Linked DNA regions of Homo sapiens: region 1 is linked to region 2. The links come from fine-mapping of genetic effects on gene expression. A gene starts in region 2. The other region holds a variant in brackets. All regions are shown on one strand. Distances are from middle to middle.

Region 1 (2,903 bases), 48 kb after region 2:
GGGGTTAGCGATGATGGCATGCTGCGGGGCTAGCTGGAGAGGAGCCATCCTCCCCATGGGGCTGCATGGGCGTGTGTGCAAAGGGCCAGGGGCAGGCTGGCTGAGGCAGCCTTCAAAGCTATCCGCTGGCCGGGTACAGTGGCTCACACCTGTAATCACAGAACTTTTGGGGGACAAGGAGGGCGGATCACAAGGTCAAGAGATCGAGACTATCCTGGCCAACATGGTGAAACCCCATCTCTATTAAAAATACAAAAAGTAGCTGGGCATGGTGGTGTAAGCCCGTAGTCCCAGCTACTTGGGAAGCTGAGGCAGGAGAATCTCTTGAATCCAGGAGGTTGCAGTGAGCCGAGATCGTGCCACTGCACCCCAGCCTGGCGACAGAAGAAGACTCCGTCGCAAAAAAAAAGCTACCCTGCTTTGCAAAAGCTCTCTCACCTTGGCTCCTGCCAATCCCCTCACTGCCTGCAGGACACAGGCTTCCCCCAAGCCTATTCTCATTCCACAGATGAAGAAACCAAGAAAGCGAGGCTCAGAGAGGCAAAGCAGCCCACTTAAGTCTGGCAGCCGGTGAGGAGTACAATGGAGACGCAAGTGTGGGCCTTGCCCTGCCCCACCCGGGGCTGCAGCAGGGTGGGCTGGGAAGGGATTTCTGAGACTGAGAACGGCGTAGGCAAAGGCTCAGAGGCAGGAAGGGGCCTGGAAACCCAGGGCACGCGAATGTTGGGTAGCATGGTGCCGAGCTGGGAAAGGCGCCTCTGGGGAGAGCAGGTCATGCCCAGACTGTGGCCCAGGGTTTCTGTAAATGGAGCTTCGCACAGTAGGCCCACGGCAGCCAGTGTAATTTGGAGAGAAAATTCCAACCGGATGAAAACAAATGTTCTTTGCTACTGCAGCTCCCTGCCCTGCAGGCCATCTCAGGCTGTTACAGCTGGCGGCCGGCTGGAGACTGCGAGCGGCAAGGAATTCGGAGCCAGGGCCAGGGCAGTGCTTCATTCCAGTGGAAACGTGTGCTAGCTGCGGATTTCTGGGTGGTGTGGTATGGGCTGGAGCCGGCTGGCATGGATGGAGGCACGCAAGGACGTGTGGGGGCTAGATCTGTCCCCCCAGGAATCCCACCAGCTTCCGTCATGACTCAGTTCTGGGACAGCCGAGGGCTTAGGAATTGGCTTGGGCTTTGCAGAGCAGACGTGGAAAGGTCAGCTCCACACTGGCCCAGTGTGGAGGCTGGCAGGGCCCAAACCAGAAAGGAAAAGTGGCCTGGCTCTGGCCTCGGTGATCTTGGTGTTCGGGTGTGTGCCGGCGAGCCTGCCTTCTCATCGGGGGGTGTGTGTGCCCCCAGGGCAAGGACTGTGCCCAAATGTGTCATTGTCGAATTCATCCAACAACTTCCGAACAGCAGTTGTGTGCCAAGCCCAAGCGGGCACTGCGGGTGCCAAGGTAAATAGGTCTCAAGTTCTGTCTCCTCCCAGCTCCTTCCAGCACTGGGCTCCCGACTGGCACCGTCAGGCTCTGGAATGAACCAGGCCTGGGTTCAATTCTGCCTCAGCCCTGACTGTGAGAGCCTGGACAAGTCACTGTCTCCCCTAGACC[T/A]GGCTTCCCCTGAGAAGGGCAGGGGTAAGGGTGCTGTCGCAGCAGTTACTGGGGTAGTGATCCTGGAGTCTCGAATAACTCAGGCTCTTTAAATCCTAGAACTCTGATGAATCACCCATGCTATGGGCTCGGTTATGGCCCCCAAAATTCATGTGTTGAAATCCTAACTCCCATACCTCCACATGTGGCTGTACCTGGAGACAGGGCCTTTAAAGAGGTGACTAAGTTAGAATGCAGTCAATGGGGTGGGCCCTAATCCAGTAGGACTGGTTTCCTTATAAGAAGAGGAGACTGGGACACAGACACCCACAGAGGGACAATCAGGTGGCCAAAGACACTGGGAGAAGGTGGCATCTACGCACCAAGGAAGAGAGGCCTCAGGAGGAACCACCCAGCTGGGACCTTGGCCTCCTGAGTGGTGAGAAGATGGCTGTCTGTTGTTGAAGCTGCCCCGTCCATCGGTGCTGCCTTGGTATATGGCAACTCGAGCAAAACACAAGCCGCACTGCAGACCTTCTCAGGCTGGAGTCCCCCTGCAGGGTACCCGCCGTGGGCCCCTGGCTGGCAGTTTTACTGGGGTTCAGTTCTAGAGGAGGCAGGGCTCCCAGCCCCAAGCCTGTCCAAGACGATTCTCTACCCAGAGGATCCCAAATGTTTCTCTCAAAGGAATGCCTTCCACCGTCCCTGACAGAGCACAGCCAGGGGTTAGTTATAGCCAGGGGTTAGTTACAGCCAGGAGTTAGTTACAGCCAGGGGTTAGTTATAGCCAGGGGTTAGTTATAGCCAGGGGTTAGTTACAGCCAGGGGTTAGTTATAGCCAGGGGTTAGTTACAGCCAGGGGTTAGTTATAGCCAGGGGTTAGTTATAGCCAGGGGTTAGTTACAGCCAGGGGTTAGTTATAGCCAGGGGTTAGTTACAGCCAGGGGTTAGTTATAGCCAGGGGTTAGTTACAGCCAGGGGTTAGTTACAGCCAGGGGTTAGTTATAGCCAGGGCCCGGCTTCTGCCTCCAGGGACTGTTCTTAGGGACGCTCTAGTTCCAAAGATACTTTCGGCCGTAGCATCCTGGTTGAAAAACCACATAGAGGAACAAGCAGTTGAGTGAGCCCTGGTGGGTCCATTCAATGGAGTCCAAAGTAGCTTACACCAGTTGGTCTGAAAGTTACACCCAGGGAAATGCAGAAGGTGACCGATGCCTATTGAATGACCCTCCAAGCAGCGCCTGGCTCCAAGAAATGCTTTCTGTAAGTTATCTTGTTTATTTTTCTTCCTAAGGAAGCTAGATATTTTTGTCCCTATTTTACACACAAGA
Region 2 (2,903 bases):
AAAGGGGCTTAGCTGGAAACCCCAACCCTGCTGAAGGCCCTAGATGCCCCACTGTCCTCCAGGGGGCCACACTGGGTCACAGGGCGAGGGGCTCAGGCCAGACTCAGTTTCCTCCCCTATTAAAGGGAGAGCTTGGCCGAGACAATCATGGGCCTTCTTCAGCTCAACAACCCTTTGTTTCTCTCTGTCCTCCTGAGTTATTTGGTTGCACCATGGAGATAAAACAACCCCTGGAAATCCCAGAGGCATTTTTTTCCCACTGGAGAAACACAAAAATATCACATGAAGAATGAATCACTTAAAGTGTCAGGGCAGGAAGAGGAAAGACAGGCATGGCGCTCGCCTCGGGGTGGGGGTGGCTCTGGGTTTCTCTTCAGCTCCCTCAGCCTCCCTGGTCCCCAGAACCCCTTCCTCACTGGAGTGAAGAGAAGCCAAAGCCCTAAGCCTCAGTTTCCCAATCTGTAAATGGGGACAACAAACCTGCCTTGAAGGCGTATTCGGAGGGGCCAATGCATTCATTTGTTCGTTCATTCATTCATTCATTCATCTATTCACTTATTTCGTACCGGTGTGATGCTGGACTGGGACTGCAGACTCTGAAGTGGGTCGAACAGACCCACCTCACCCCCGTGAAGCCAACCAAATGCCCTCCAGGCCATGACTAGGGCATCCTGAGAGCACTCCCTAGGCCATGCCGGACCCTCCCCCGAGCCTTTGGCCTTCTCTCCAACCCCTCTCTATGCAAGGCTCTTGACACAAGGACACTGAGGCACAGAGACGGTCAGCAACTTGCTCAAGGTCACACAGCAGGTAGGTAGTAGCACCAGCATCTGTGCACCCCCACAGGGCTCCCACCCCTCTAGATCAGAGCCTGCTCCCCATCTTGCCCCACTGGCATAGCCGTCACCCCGGCCCCTCCCATTCTTCTGTGACTAGGAGTCACTTAGCAGCCTTGCCTGGCTTCTCCCTTAGACCCAGTGCTTAGCCAGGGCAGGGACCCCAGGGTCAGCGTGAAGGAACAGAGGTGCCCCTGCACAGTGAGGACCTGGAAACCTCCACAGGCTGCTCCTTACCTGCCGAGCCCTGTGACTGAGGGATCAGAAGCCCCCTCCGCTGGCTGCGGTCTCCCTGCAGCTGCTGGCCTCTTCCCCGGCTCCTGGTTGCCACCAACCTTAAACCCCAATAAAAGGAGAGCAACTTGGTCGAGCCTTGTATAGGCAAAAGAGTGTTTTCCAGCGCAGGCTGGCCTCTGTGTGCTGACAAGAATTCAGTGTGCTCCTCAGGGCGGGGAGTGGGGCTAGGGCGCTGAGTCAGCCCTGCAGGAGTCCAGCTCCCGCCTGGGCCTAGGGCCGCCACCTCCCAGGCCCAGGATGGCAGCGGCTGCTCCCGCAGTCCCCACGCACTCCAGCCTCTGGTCTTACAGCCTTGTGCATCCTCAGAGCACCAGCAAGAGCCCCATTTTACAGGTGAGCAAACTAGAGACACTCCCTGTGAGATCCCACAGCTAGAAGCAGCAGGGGCTTAGACCCAGGGCACCGGGCTCCAGGTCCGCACCTCAGCAGATGCTTGGCACAATACATGTGGGTTCCCTCCCGTGGCCCTCAGTCTCTGTTGGGCAATGGAGGTCAGTGGCACCACTGCACAAGCCCCTCTGGCCAGCATGGCCCGGGGAGGGGTGTGGGTAAAACAAACGGTCCCCACACCAGCCCGGGGAGGAAGGGTAGCTGGGACCCGAGAGCCCACAGAGGGTGTGTGGCACCTGCCTGACTCCAAGCTGGGCTGATCTTCCTGCTGTTGCCCCCCTACCCCTGGCCTGTCCCCACCCAGCAGCAGAGGGTCCTCCCTGCCAGTAGGAATGGGGTGGGGATGGGGCAGGAACAGGGCGGGGGATGCCCACACCTGCCACTGTTCGAAACACATCAGTGGCTTCCATGACTGTCTGGACACAGCCCAGGGGCCTGGCTGGCCTCTGCAGCCACACTTCCTGGGTGCCAGGCACCCCCCCAGCCCATGGCCGTCTCCCACCCCTGGGCCTTCGTGCATCGTGGTACCTTGGCGGCGCCCTTGGCTGGCTTCTGGGTGGCATTTAAACGCAGCCATAAAGGAGGCCAGCCCTCCTCTGCCTCCCACCCATCCCTGGAAGCCTGCCCATCCTGAGCCAGGCCAGAAATAAACCTCCTTTTTCCATTCCTTTCGGTGGACAGAGAGCGAGTTCAGACTGGTCTGGGTGCCCCTCATCTAACCACGGTCCCAACAATGGCAGCCCAGAGCGATGGGTGCCACGATGGGAAACCAGGGGGCTATGGGCGCCCAGAGTGCCTGATGCAGCCTGACGGGGTAGGGGCCGGGAGTGGGGGTGGTATTTATTTAATCTTCATGATTAGGAGGGGCTGTGATTATCCCCAATTTACAGATGCGGAAACTGAGGTACAGAGTTTCAGTAACTCGTCCTGGGTCGCCTGGCTGGGGACTCAGACCAGGGGGTCTGGTGTGGACACCTGAAGGATGAGTCGGGCGGTGGGGCGGGGGTGGGGGTGGGGGAGTGTTCCTGGCAGAGGGAACAAGGCACACAAAGTTCCTCCTGCCTCTTGTCTGGGGCTCAGCATAGCAGCAGAGAAACAAAAGGGCTCTGAGCTTGGGGTTTGAACACGGGTTCAAGTCCCTTGCCGCTTCTCAGCTGTGTGATCCTGGGCATGTTTCTCTGTCTCTCTGAGCCTGGACTGCCCTGTGGATTTTGTTATAGTTCAAAGCAGACCTCCTGTGCACCAGATCTGGAACACCTATGACATAGAAAAGTATGGGTCCGCCAATGACATTTACTCCTTGCGATCCACCCTACGAGGCAGGAATTTTAAAAGTTCACCTTTGACAGAGGTTGGAAGCACAACAAAGACCAACCTGCC

What was found. PIP is the estimated chance that this variant, and not a neighbour inherited with it, causes the effect.
Region 1: its variant is fine-mapped to the expression of SHISAL1 in lung (TOPMed, PIP above 0.99).

The regions. Positions count from the first base shown.
Region 1 is chr22:44,359,836-44,362,738 of GRCh38, forward strand. No RefSeq gene overlaps it. Among named protein-coding and RNA genes, the nearest start is that of SHISAL1, 48 kb to the left of the region's middle. The variant T/A (reference allele first, on the strand shown) is at 1,594.
Region 2 is chr22:44,311,678-44,314,580 of GRCh38, forward strand. It overlaps SHISAL1 (shisa like 1), which reads right to left and starts at 1,274. Exons shown (of 5, transcript NM_001099294.2): 1 at 1,074-1,274. It overlaps LOC101927499 (a long non-coding RNA gene), which reads left to right and starts at 1,334. Exons shown (of 2, transcript XR_244444.3): 1 at 1,334-1,466; 2 at 2,744-2,903.